Homo sapiens: one gene and its partner. The protein of the gene in region 2 purifies or fractionates together with the protein of the main gene of each other region. This does not show direct contact. Each region holds a gene or a part of one and is shown on either strand. Other genes may lie near its edges.

Region 1 (7,027 bases), on a different chromosome or scaffold from region 2:
AAACTATATTAACAGTTTTAGTAAAATACTTAAAATTTGCAAAATGCAAATCCTCTGAGCCATGAAGCCAATCTTAGATTTGTAAGCGATATTTTTTTTACTCTGAATATATTATTTGCCTCATATTCCCAGTGCCTAGGACAGTCTTTAATACATTGTATACACCAAGTTTTCTGTAAGCCTAATCTCTATATTTTGTCTTTAACTTCGTTAAGAAATTAAGATTTTATTTGGCAAAAAGGACATTTATTTTTCTTGATATTCATTTATAAGTGTTCTAGTAAGCCTTAAATTTTTTCTTTATTATTCCGTTTTCCCCACATTTTAATTAAGTATTACTCAGAGCTGCCTTCTTTAAGCAGCTTATGGTGATACTATTTTGACGTTGGTCAGAAATCAGAATTTAAAACTGGCTGCTATCCAGCTTCTATCAGAAGTGCATTTGAGAGAAGTGTTATTTAATAAAAGATTGCTGAAAGGACATTTAGTTCATCTCCTCTCTGTATTCTGAGCTGTTTCTGTTTCAAGTTAGATCTGTGAATGCTACTTTCTTAGGAAATGCAGTGTATGTTCTCAATTTCATCAAGGATAAATAATGGAAAATAAATCATATAAAAACTAATTGCTGTGTTTGAAAAACTGTCAGGGTGTCAGGGGCACTGCCATGATGTCATTGAATTTCCCCCAGAAAAGCTTACCATGAGAAATGTCCTAGAATCTGTGTCAGAAAAAAAAAAAAAAAAAGACTTCTCTGAAGGGTTAGTAGACTTGTTTCTGATTATGAGGAACTTTTTCTTTCCTCTTGACTGTTGGAAAACTCAGTGCAAAATTTTTATACTACATGGCAGCGACTCTGTAAGTCCTTTCTAAATATGTCTTCAAAAGAAATTCTGCGCTGGAAAAAGATTGGCTTTAAATAGAAAATAGAGATAAAGCATTTGGCAAGCACCTTTTTAACATGTATTGCCAAGCTAGGCTAGTGAGCCTCTTTTTATTTTATGTATTTTTCCTTTGATTAGAAAACGTTGTGTGACGTGATCCTCATGGTCCAGGAAAGAAAGATACCTGCTCATCGTGTTGTTCTTGCTGCAGCCAGTCATTTTTTTAACTTAATGTTCACAAGTAAGTATCTTAAGGTAAAACATGCCATTATTTCTTCTATGAGAATGAAGTAAAATCTAAAAGAGAATATGTCATTTTTCTAATTTTTAAAGCAGTTAAGAACTTAAGGCCACAGAACAGTGAAGAGATTGAAAAAGTAGTCAGCTGATAACCAAAGGAAAAAATGTCCTTTCATTAGACCTAAAGGCCTGATGCCTTTATTGATGGAGGTACAGCTTCTACTTAAAAGCCCAGGGTTGAGGTGGAGGTTGCAGTGAGCCGAGATTGCACCACTGCACTCCATCCTGGGCGTCAGAGCGAGACTCTGTCTCAAAAAAAAAAAAAAAAAAAAAAAAAAAAAAAAGCCCAGGGTTTTCTTTTTAACCTTAGGTGGAAAGACAAAGAAGCAGATAAATTTCATAATATTTTAGCCGGCAAGTTAAACTTTAAAAAAAAAATAGCTGTAGCATATTGTGCCAGAAAGAACCCTGGATTTGGTGTTCAGAACTGGGTCCAAGTCCTACTTCCTCTACTTAGTACTATTTTATGAGCTTGGGAAAAAAACAAAATCTAGTTTTATGTTTCTGTTAATATGGTCTTAAAAAGAAGTACACTAATTCACTCTTTTCTTAGCTTAATTTAAGGCACATCTTGGGTGGAGAATTAATTTGCATTGACTATAGAAATGTTGGGCTTGCTGGGGCATTTTCTTCCAGAGAGAACTGTCCCGTTATTTTTCTGCATATTTAACATGGCCTGGAATGCCGTGGTTCCTCAGTCAAACTTGTGGTAGTACAGATGCCATTTATGTTTCTTCTCTTCATTGTAGCTAACATGCTTGAATCAAAGTCCTTTGAAGTAGAACTCAAAGATGCTGAACCTGATATTATTGAACAACTGGTGGAATTTGCTTATACTGCTAGGTGAGTTAAGTATTATTTTTATTTTAGAGAAGTAATGTTGGTATCTACCATGGCAAAGCATTGTCGTAACAAATAGTTGCACTACAAATTCTTCAAAATGAAAAACCGCAAGGATGGAAGAGTTTCAGTATCCTATGCCATACTAATTCAAGGACTGAAAGTTTAATTTTGTGTTTAATTTCAGGGGCTATTAGGATACATTCCACAGTAACATTTAAATAATAAAAAATCATGGGTAACTAATATTCCCTCTAACTTATTTGCAGAATTTCCGTGAATAGCAACAATGTTCAGTCTTTGCTGGATGCAGCAAACCAATATCAGATTGAACCTGTGAAGAAAATGTGTGTTGATTTTTTGAAAGAACAAGTTGATGCTTCAAATTGTCTTGGTAAGAAATATCAGATTCCTGTTGTGTGTTTATTTTGTTTTATCCTTTATTTCTAATTTAATTTTTTAAAAAGGCTGATTTTAAGTATCCGCATTTAACCTTAAAGACATTGTCCACTAGAACGTTTTCTAGTAATAAAATTTAAGAGGGGCTTAGAGAGATGCATATTAACCTGGGCAGCAGCAAGCTTATTAAATATTATATCAACATTTTCTAAAACACAAAATGGCATTTTTAATGGTTTTTCACGGATCTAGGACAATGAATAAGGATTGCATGTGGTGATAGTAACATGATTATGAATGTTTCCTTTTATTTAAGCACTTATGATATGCTAAGGTCTATCACAGATGAGGCAACTTATAGTTAGGTAACTTGCCAGAGGTCACATAGCTAGTGTATGAACGAGCTGGGATTGGAACTCAAGTAATCTAATTCTTAGCTACTACACCTTGCTGCCTCCCCACATTGTCAAAATGCTGTTTTATACTAGAAAACATAACCTTAGTCTATAAATTAAGATACTAACTGAGGGACTGCTATAGCCATTTTGAAGCTATTAATAAAGTATTTTCTATTTTGTGATAGGAGAAGCAGAAAAAGTTGATCAGAGCCTTCCAGAGTGTGGTATGCTTTTCACTGTGTGATGATCCTTAGTGGCACATGAATGAACGTCCAGATGTTTGTGCAGTAGCCCACCCTTATCTGCAGGATACGTTCCAAGACCCCCAGTGAATGCCTGAAACTGCAGATAGTACTGAATCCTATATATACTGTGTTTTTTATGATACATACATGCCTATGATGAAGTTTAATTTCTAAATTAGACAGTAAAAGATTAACAACAATAATAATAAAATAGAACAACTTTAACAATATGCTAGCATCACTACTCTTATATTTTGGGGCCATTATTAAGTAAAATAAGGGTTACTTGAACAGAGCACTGCAATACTAGGGTAGTCCACTTCATAACCAGGATGGTTTCTTAAGTGACAGGCAGGTAGGTTATACAGCATGGATATGCTGGTCAAAGGGATGATTTCTGTCCCAGGCAGGATGGAGCAGGATGACGTGAGATTTCATCACACAACTCAGAACAGCACACAATTTCAAACATATGAATTGTTTGTTTCTGGAATTTTCCATTTAATGTTTTTGAACCACAGAAAGCAAAACCATGGATAAGGGGGACTACTCTAATTCCATTTTCCTACGCTTGTTGTGATTCAGAGGCTTTAAAGAAAGGGAAGAGCGCTGGTATAGGAGTGCTAGGAAAGCAGGGAGGAAAGAAAAGTAGAATGAAGGAAAGTATAAAGAGGGGTCAAAGAATCCAGTCAGTGCTAAGATATTTGACCCAGGAGAAAAGAAGAGGGGTGCTAAATGACAAGAACGCAAAGACTGATGCAAAGGGCTCCTGAAGATGCTTCAGAATTTTGGCAAGTCTCCTCTGTCCCTACTTTTTGTAGGCTTTCCTCCTTCCGGACACTTTAGTACTCCTTCCTGCATACCCCCTCACTGTGAGCACAGAGAGAGAGATCTTGGAAGGCAGGTGGAAAGCAGCAGAATAAATTTCAGGAGGAAGTAAAAGTCAGGTGAAGGGAATAAAAATGAGACTTAGCCTAATATCCAGAAAAGGGATTGGACTAGATGGAGCAGGAAGAGAAATAGCTATGCAGGTGAATATACTGAAGGAATTTTTAAAAGGTAGCCATGGGTCTACATATTGAAAAGATCCCTATATTAGAAAATAAAAGGCCAATCTCTAATCCTACCTGTACAGCAGAGACACTCTGGCATGAGTCCTTCCATCTCTTTGGGCCGTAATTGGGGCTTCACTCATCAATAAGATTTATATTCCTAAGACTTAAGGTTACTTCCATTATATAAATAATTATCTTCAGACAATACTATAAACGGGGAATTACCTTAATTAAGTTTTTGGAAATGATGGCTTATGTATGTTTCTATAACTCCCTAGCACTCTAAATTTCCTCCTGGGGTGATTCAACTACAAAGAAGAATGGCTGAAATATAGGTAGGTAGTAGATGTGGTGGTGCAAAGCATAGTGTGGAACCTGGAGTGAGTCTGTGCTAAGCACATCTTAGGCTTTGGGCTTCTGAGGAGACCATTTAGTAGTTTTGCCTCTGGATACCTTCTATCCTTACTGTTCACAAAGCTGGGAGGAAGGACAGCCCCGCCACCTAGAAAGTAGCCTGATTCCTGGCTAAGCTTCTGGCAAAGACAGTGGCCCAGCCAGGTGAGCCAAGTGCCATAGCCCAATAACTAGGGAAACTGCTTCTGCTTGCTTTCTGTTTAGCCTTGAGCATGGCTCTCAATGTCAGCTGATTGGATAATTCCTAGCTTAGTTTTCACCACCTGTCAATTCTCTGCTGCCCAGAAAGAGTCCATCAATCGAGCTTCCACAAATGCTAAAGGAACCGGTGGCAGCTGATGGAATCGGGCAAAGATCATGTAAAAAATTAAACCCAGTACCAGCCTGGCCAACATGGTGAAACCCCTCTCTACCAAAAAAATACAAAAATTAGCCGAGTGCAGGCGTGGTGGCACACACCTGTAGTCCCAGCTACTCCGGAGGCCGAGGCGGGAAAATCGTTTGAACCGGGAGGCGGAGGTTGCAGTGAGCCGAGATCTTGCCACTGCACTCCAGCTGCATGAGACAGTGAGACCCTGTCTTGGAAAAAACAAAAAAAAACAGTAGTTTGAGGAACAGAAAACCAAGCTAAACAGCCAAAATGAATGGCTCCTGTAAGGCAAATTTAATGTGAGAAATAGAAGGGAACAAATTAACCGGGCATGGTTGTGCGCGCCTGCAGTCCAAGCTACTCCAGAGGCTGAAGCGGGAAAATCGCTTGAACCGGGAGGCGGAGGTTGCAGTGAGTGAGCCGAGATTGCGCCACTGCACTCTAGGCTGGACTACAGAGTGAGACTCTGTCTCAAGAAAAAAAAAAAAAGCAAACTTAAAAATACGATGTGTAAAAATATGGTTTTACAGTTTTTTGACATTCAATTGAATTGAAAAATAGAATCGATACTCTTAAAACTCAAACCGAAGAAGATCAAACAGGAAGTTGCCTCATGATACGAAACAAAAATGCAAAGGAAGCCACTAGTGAGAAGATAAAAGAAAGGGAAGGAAGATACAGGAACTGCAGTGTGAGGTAGGAGTTCCAGAAGGAACAGATGGAGAAAGCAATAATCAAATAAGACTACGACTTCTTTGGGTTTAAAAAAAAAAAAAAAAAAAAAAAAAAAAAGAACTTTAACTTTCGGACTAAGTTATACTGAGTATTAAACCTGATCAATGAACTAAGATATTCCTCCCTCAGATATATTCTAGTGATATTTTTCACCTTCAAAGATCAAAAGAGAGCTTACATTTGGGGTGATAAAAATATTCTGGAACTAGATAGTGGTGACTGTGGTACAACATTGCAAATGTAGTAAATGTCACGGTAAGTTTTATGTGTATTTTACCACATTAAAAAAAAAAGTGACCCTACAGCTAGCAGGTCCCAAAAGAAACTCCCACACCCACTAGCAGTCACTCCCCATTCTTCCTCTGGCAGGCCTGGCAACCATGAATCTGCTTTCTGCCCCTATAAATTTGCCTATTCTGAGTGTTTCATATAAATTGAATCATACCAAAGGTGGCCCTTTGTGTCTGGCCTCTTTGAGCACAGTGTTTTTAGGGTTCATCCATATTGTAGCATTTATCAGTACTTCATTTCTTCTTATGGCTGAATAATATTCCATTGCATGGATATACCAAAATGTGTTTATCCATTTACTGATGGGTGAATGTTTGAATTGTTTCCAAGCCAGCACATTTTATAGAGGAAAAGGAAAGCACTGGTTAACTTGAACAAAAAAAAATAAAAGTGCTTTCTACCATCTGGGACCTTGGCTGTGGATCAGGTGAGTGCACAGGTCAGACGAAAGCCCTACAGTTGGCACAGCCTGGGCCTCTGTCCATGGTTGCAGGGGCATCTCCGCAGCTACTGCATGCAGTGATCATGGGGGCCCCAGACCTGGGCTTAGGCAAGGGCACTGTGTTGTTGTACATCACCAAACACTTCAAGCTGAGGCACCTCTCCAGCAGGGACTGCTCCAGGACAACATGCTACAGGGCACATAAATTGGTATGTTAGCCAAGGCTTTTCTTGACCAAGGGAAACTCATCCCAAATGATGTTACGACTCGGCTGGCCCTTCATGAACTGAAAAATCTCACCTAATATAGCTGGTTTTCCAAGGACACTGCCATAGGCAGAAGCCCTAGATGAGCTTATCAGATAGACACAATGATTAACTTGTATGTGCCCTTGGAGGTCATTTAAACAACACTTCACTGCTTGCTGTTCATCTAGCTAGTGGCCGAGTCGACTACATTGAATTCAACCGTCCCCAAACTGTGGGTATTGCTGATCTGACTGGGAAGCCTCTCATTCGGCCTGAGAATAATAGACCAGAGACACAGTTATCAAGAGACTGAAGACTTATGGAGCCAGTCCCAGAACTTTACCAGAAAAAAACAGGGATGTTGGAAACACTCTCCAGAGCAGAAACCAACAAGATTTAACGTCATGTT
Region 2 (7,027 bases):
TTCATCCATGTCCCTACAAAGGACATGAATTCATCCATTTTTATGGCTGCATAGTATTCCATGGTGTATATGTGCCACATTTTGTTAACCCAGTCTATCACTGATGGACATGTGGGTTGGTTCCAAGTCTTTGCTATTGTGAATAATGCCGCAATAAACATACGTGTGCATGTGTCTTTGTAGCAGCATGATTTATAATCCTTTGGGTATACACCCAGTAATGGGATGGCTGGGTCAAATGGTATTTCTAGTTCTAGATCCCTGAGGAATCGCCACACTGACTTCCACAACAGTTGAACTAGTTTACAGTCCCACCAACAGTGTAAAAGTGTTCCTATTTCTCCACATCCTCTCCAGCACCTGTTGTTTCCTGACTTTTTAATGATCGCCATTCTAACTGGTGTGAGATAGTATCTCATTGTGGTTTTGATTTGCATTTCTCTGATGGCCAGTGATGATAAGCATTATTTCATATGTCTGTTGGCTGCATAAATGTCTTCTTTTGAGAAGTGTCTGTTCATATCCTTCACCCACTTTTTCATGGGGTTGTTTTTTTCTTGTAAATTTGTTTGAGTTCTTTGTAGATTCTGGATATTAGCCCTTTGTCAGATGAGTAGATTGCAAAATTTTTCTCCCATTCTGTAGGTTGCCTGTTCACTCTGATGGTAGTTTTTTTTGCTGTGCAGAAGCTCTTTAGTTTAATGAGATCCCATTTGTCAATTTTGGCTTTTGTTGCCATTGCTTTTGGTGTTTTGGACATGAAGTCCTTGCCCATGCCTATGTCCTGAATGGTATTGCCTAGGTTTTCTTCTAGGGTTTTTACGGTTTTAGGTCTAACATTTAAGTCTTTAATCCATCTTGAATTAATTTTTGTACAAGGTGTAAGGAAGGGTTCCAGTTTCAGCTTTCTACACATGCCTAGCCAGTTTTCCCAGCACCGGCTAACTCCCTTTATCCACCATTGAGGCAATCACTGTTATCTGTACAACTGTTCAGACCTCTTTTTATGTATTTATCCATCTACATGCAGAAAAGTAAAATGTTTTGAGATTTAAAACAATACACAGGATACTACACATATTATTCTACAACTTGCTGTTTTTACCCAACAAGACATCCTGGAGTTCTTTCCTTTCATAACATAGATATACCTCATTCTTTTTAGTTGCTATAGAATACGTGTATGAACATATTATCCATTTTCCTACCGATGTACATTTAAGTCGTCTCCAATTATTCTGTTTTACCAACAAGGCAACATTGAATATCTTTGTATATGCCTCTTCTCTAAATGTACAACTGTTGATGCAGGGCAAATAGGTAGAAGTAAAAATGCATGGTGTATAGACATTTAAATTCTTAACAGATATAGCCAAAATGCTCTCCAACATTGCTTTATCAATTTAAACTCACAACAACAATGAGGAAAATACTTATTTCCCTAAACCCTCACCAAAGACTGAGATAAACTTTCCTTTTTTTGTAAATTGATGTTTTAAAATTTTATTTCCCTGATTAATTTTTACTTTACCAATATTTTCATGTTTACTGGACATTTGTATTTCCTTTCCTGTGAGATGCCTATTCGTATCCTTTATTTTTCTAATGGCCTCTTGTTTTTAAGTCTGTATGAATTATTTATATAATCTGGACATAATAAATAGAGAGGCATAATAGCACAGTAGGTTAAGAGTTAACAGGATGGACTCTAGAGCCAATCTGCCCAGTCTGATTGATAGCTCCACCATTCACCAGCCATCTAACCTTGGTCAATTTACTTAGCTTAGCTATTGTGTATCTGTTTCCTCATAATGTGTAAAATGGGGATAATAATGGTATTTTTAGAGTTACTGTAAGGATTAAATTAGTTAATACGCATAAAGTGCTTTAAAACAGTGCCTGGCAAAGAATTCAGTGTTATACACATTTCCTTTGTCTGAAGGATACACTGCAAATATTTTCTCCCAATCTATTGTCTTTTAACTTTTGTTTATAAGTCTTCACTTACCTTTCCTCAAGCAGTTCTTTCTCAATTTCTCAACCATCAGACGTTATATAAGTAGATGAAACTTACAACTGACTGCCCTCACTGGATCTCACAATCAACTTAAGAATAAATTCAGGCATCAGCCAAAGTATACAGATTTTTTAAATCTTTGCACAGGTTTTAAAATAATAGCTAACTTCCTTACAGCATAAAGCATTTTCTCACAAATCAAGAAGACTGTAACTCACCAGAAAAAAAAGGACAAAAGAAATAGACCAGTTCACATAGCACATCAAAAAAAAAGGCTCTTAAAAATATGAAGAGATCCTATAACTTAATTTCAAGCCTTAGAAAAATTTAAAATTTAAAAATTAGGGCCAGGCGCAGTGGTTCACGGCTGTAATCCCAGCACTTTGGGAGGCTGAAGCAGGCAGATCACGAGATCAGGAGATCGAGACCATCCTGGCCAACATGGTGAAACCCCGTCTCTACCAAAAATACAAAAATTAGCTGGGCGTGGTGGCACATGCCTGTAATCCCAGCTACTCGGGAGGCTGAGGCAGGAGAATCGCTTGAACCCGGGAGGCGGAGGTTGCAGTGAGCCAAGATCGTGCCCTGGTGACAGAGCAATCCTCACTCTCATTTAAAAGTGCAAATTAAAACTACAAATTAAATGTTCCTTTTTATTTCATAGACCAGTAAAGATTAAGAAGTTTTAAAATACACCCTACGTGGGTATAAAGAAATAGGCAGTCATACATTGCTGGTGAGAGCTTAAATTGCTATAGTTTAGCATTGTCTTTCCAAAATAAAAATGCACATATCCTTCAATTCATCAATTTAACATCTATCTAGAAATGTATCCTACAAAAAGACACTCATATTAAAAATGACATGCTTACAAGGTTATTCATTGTAGTAATGTCTGTAATAGCAATGACTGTTTACAACCTAAGTGTCAACTAATAGGGGACTGGCTAAATAAACTGTGGTACAGCCAAATGATGAAATATTATGCAGTTGTTTAAAAAATAAGGCAGATCTCTCTTTATGTGAATGTGAAAAAATCTTCAAGCTATGTTGTTAAGTGTAAAAAAGCAAGATACAGAAAAATGTATATATTTTGCTATAATTTGTATGTTGGTGGAAGGAATATATTAGTGCACATAAATTTATGTTTGTAAATGCTTAATTTCTGGAAGAACACACAACAAAAAGGATATAACAAATTGGTAATGCTTGCTTCTTGGGAGGGAATGGCTAGAAGATAATGAAAGGAAGGAATACTTTTCAATGTATATACTGTTTTGTACCTCTTGAATTTTGTACCAAGTGTTCATATTATCTAATCAAATAGAATTAATATATCAAATATATATGCAAACAAACTAAAATCTCACTGTAACTATACCAACCTTTCTACTGATACCTTTTAAATGATAGCACAGCAGGTTGCCATCATTTAGGTAGGGTATGTGGCTAATCTATTTGTGACAAAAGCAGAAATTCACTATCCTAGCTGCCCAACATCACCCCCTATGGAACTTTTGAAACCAGAAATTCTGACTTAGTAGGTCTGGGGTACAGTCTGGGCATCATAATTTTTTTAGTTCACAGGTGATGGTGACAGACAGTCAGAACTGAAAATAGCTGAGGTAGACCATGGCACAAGTAACTAAACATCCAGGTTCAATCTCCACCTAGGTCATAACCATAGTTTCATCACTAATCCTAACCACTTCACAAAGTTCTTAAGAAGGAACAGTTAAGAGTGTGTAGACGGCACAGTGAAAATCTTACCACCTCTCAATATATAAACAGATAAGTAGTATAATCTCTGTGTATTAAATGTAGTACATTTGCAACATTCATAGTAATAAGTTAATCTCATATAGCATTCTAGAAAGAACTTTGATAATAGTGGACTAGTGCCGAACAGGCCATCAACTGTGTGACACTTGCTGTCTCTGTTAGATTCTTCATTTGTAAAATGAAGGGTAAGAACCTTTATTTTCTCTACCTTCATGTTCTCTACCTTCCAGCTTTAAATTTCTATAATTGTCTAAGAATACAGATGTCTAAAAACAGCTATTGCTTAGTATAGACTTTAGGATAAAATAGGATCTTTCATCCGATTCACAGCTTAGGCCCATTTCAGTCCAGTGGGTTAGCGTCTCTTAACAGACCCTTCGATATGTATTACGTGCTGCTGAATTAATTAACAGTCACAGAAAAAAAATTTAGAATTCAAACGCTCTTATCTAATAAATCTTAAATATTTTTAAAACAGTGAATCATGCAAAACAAGTGTACTAAATACATTTAAACACTAAAATAAAGCATCTGATGTACTGCCTTAAAGCAAATGGTTCAAGTTAAAAAGCAATAATCAAAATGGTAGAAGGGATGTTAAAGACCATATCCAAACCTCTAATTTTACAAGTAAGGAAATACGGGCTCAGCAAGGTTAAAGAATTTGCCCAAAGTCATTGTCATTAATGACAGGAAAACAAATTTGTCATTTATGGTTCTCTGTATGTGTACTGATACAAACTTTTAATGTTTATCACTTTAGATAGGGGTTTTTGATAACTAAAATTACATACAAACCTAAAGAGATGCCATAAAAATGTCTTAATACACATAAAAAGCTTAACTTACATGAATATATGACTATACAACATTTTGTTTGCAGTTCTCAAAAGAGAATAGAACTTTATTAGTAGCAAAAACATGTAATCTGATATTATTGTCAAATAATTTCATAAAGCACATTAACAAGGAAATAGGATTAGCAGCTATGATTAAAGGATAAAATGATGGTTTTATTCTGGCTATATTAGTCACTTAAGGATCTATTCAAAGAGTTCTAAGTTTTAAAAAAACAACTCTATGAACTCACTGAGGTTTACCTCCCGTCTTCCACAGAGCAAATGATTAGCAGACTGCTCTGTGAACTTTTACAAAGAACCCTTTTCTCCCCAGTTTCTATCCATCTGAAAGATGGATTCTTCCTCCATCCTAAATAACTCATCATCTCATTTCAAATATCTGATAAAAATGAACTCTTAGCATGAATACACCCTTTTTAATCTCTTCCACTCAACTTTACTGGATAGTCAATAAAATGTTTTGATTTATACTTCACAGAATTAAATAGACGGTTTTATTCAAACCTGTCATGTCAAATTAAAACACTTAATGTGTAAAGTATGAATATGAGATTTTCTTTTCCAAGCTCCAGGACCAATTAGTAACAATATTCAAATGCCCTAATAATAAGTAATCAGAGCATTAAGAAAAATTTAATCTTTTTCCTAACAAGGCAACTTTGGCATCAATTCAAACCTAAGCTTAGTGGGCACTGTGATTTTGAAAGGGATGAACTTCCTGATGCAGACTCATACAGTTTTCTCTTAATACTAACACCTTCTAGTTTTTTTAGGTATATAATTTATAAAATACTTTCATATCTAGTAATTATCCACAGGATAACATTGTGAGGTAGGGCATATTCTAAAGGCCTATTCTGTTCTAGGCATTGTGCTGACACTGGGATGATTTTTTAAAAATGAACAAGAATCAATTCTATCTTGAAAGAGCTCACAATCTAACAGGAGAAGTGAACAAATGATTTCTATGAAATGTGCTATAATAAGGAAATGAGCAAGGAATTGTGTTCCCCAGCAGCAGAGATGCTGGCCAGAGATGGCACTGGAAGTGTCTCAGAAGGTTTTGGGAAGGAGATCACATAGAGCAGGCTTTTGAGGGATGAGTAGGAGCTTCCTGACATAAAGATGGGGTGGAGTAAAGAAGAAAGACAATCCCAAGCAGAGGGAACAACCTGTATACAATGGATAGTGGAAAAGCATCATTCCCATTTAAAAGATGCGGAAGGTAAGCTTCAAGATAAGTGAGCTGGCTAACGCCATATGAAGATTAATTAACAACGTTTAAAGAAGAATATAGGTCTTCAGATTTTAATCAGCTTTGTACACCTGGAAACTCCAGTATACATTGGACAAGAACATCAGATGAAGATTAGTTTTTATCTCCTACTTTACTCCTTCCTAAGAGATGGTCGGTGTATGACCCAGATCCTGGGGAGTGAGAAAGAGCAGGCAGAGATGAGGAGGGGCAGAGTAGGGAGGGAGGCTTATTTAAACCTCATAACAACCCGTGAGATAGGTATTTTTACTATCCCCATTTTATATATGAGAATATGAAGGCCCAAAGACATTAACAAAAGTTGGAAATTAGGTGAAGATTCAAACCCAGGTAACTAACTTTTTCACCCAGCCTCTAAGCTCAAGCACTTAACCATACCCTATAGATCTTCCCTACTCTGTCAAATAACCCTAGGCTATTCTTGGTCTGAAGACACCAGAGAAACTAAGTGAGTTTTGGAACACATAGTCCCACAGATCTCGCACTGTACCACACATCTGAAAATTCACACAAAATTTTCCCATTTGGCTCTCTTATTGATCTGGTATTCCTTGAGTAGATAAGCCCACACATATGGTGGCATGGGTGCTCTCCGCAACATTTTTACAATCTAATGTAATTGGATAAGAGGAAACTTAACAAGTGCTAATCAAAAAGGAGGTCACCAAATAACAGCATGAAGCCTGAAGATACATAAAGGAGGAAGCCCCAATCCCTCTTTTCTGTTTGAATACGGTTTTTTTTTTTTTTTTTTTTTTGAGGGGAGGAGGGAGCATGCAAATGTGTTTCAGGTGTTCTAGCATACTTGCTACTCGCTACACAGGAGTGCAGACCGAAGAATGGAGTCGAGTACACCCCTAATTTCCTTTATCAAGGGTTCATATGACAACCTTAGGATATCAAACAACCAAACTCACCTCTTGAAAAAGTTTAAGGAAGCAGACAATTCAGAACTGTCATGGTTTCCTAGCGCAAACTGCAGCAAATCCAGGGTTGCTGACAATATTTTGTCTTATAGATGGATCTCGAATTCCCTGGGTTCGTTTGAGCGCATATAAAACACCTGAAACATATTTGCATGTCCCTTCTTCC

What was found. The genes of interacting proteins can lie anywhere in the genome.
Region 1: the proteins of RASA2 (region 2) and KLHL7 purify together in Homo sapiens (affinity purification with western blotting; 2 studies listed by BioGRID and IntAct, with this or other methods). This does not show direct contact.

The regions. Positions count from the first base shown.
Region 1 is NC_000007.14:23,122,758-23,129,784, forward strand, and holds part of KLHL7 (kelch-like protein 7), read left to right. Parts: intron 1-1,019; coding exon 1,020-1,122; intron 1,123-1,930; coding exon 1,931-2,024; intron 2,025-2,290; coding exon 2,291-2,415; intron 2,416-3,003; coding exon of another isoform or gene 3,004-3,062; exon of another isoform or gene 3,063-3,293; intron 3,294-7,027. UniProt on the Homo sapiens protein: Substrate-specific adapter of a BCR (BTB-CUL3-RBX1) E3 ubiquitin ligase complex. The BCR(KLHL7) complex acts by mediating ubiquitination and subsequent degradation of substrate proteins. Probably mediates 'Lys-48'-linked ubiquitination.
Region 2 is NC_000003.12:141,490,002-141,497,028, reverse strand, and holds part of RASA2 (ras GTPase-activating protein 2), read right to left. Parts: intron 1-7,027. UniProt on the Homo sapiens protein: Inhibitory regulator of the Ras-cyclic AMP pathway. Binds inositol tetrakisphosphate (IP4).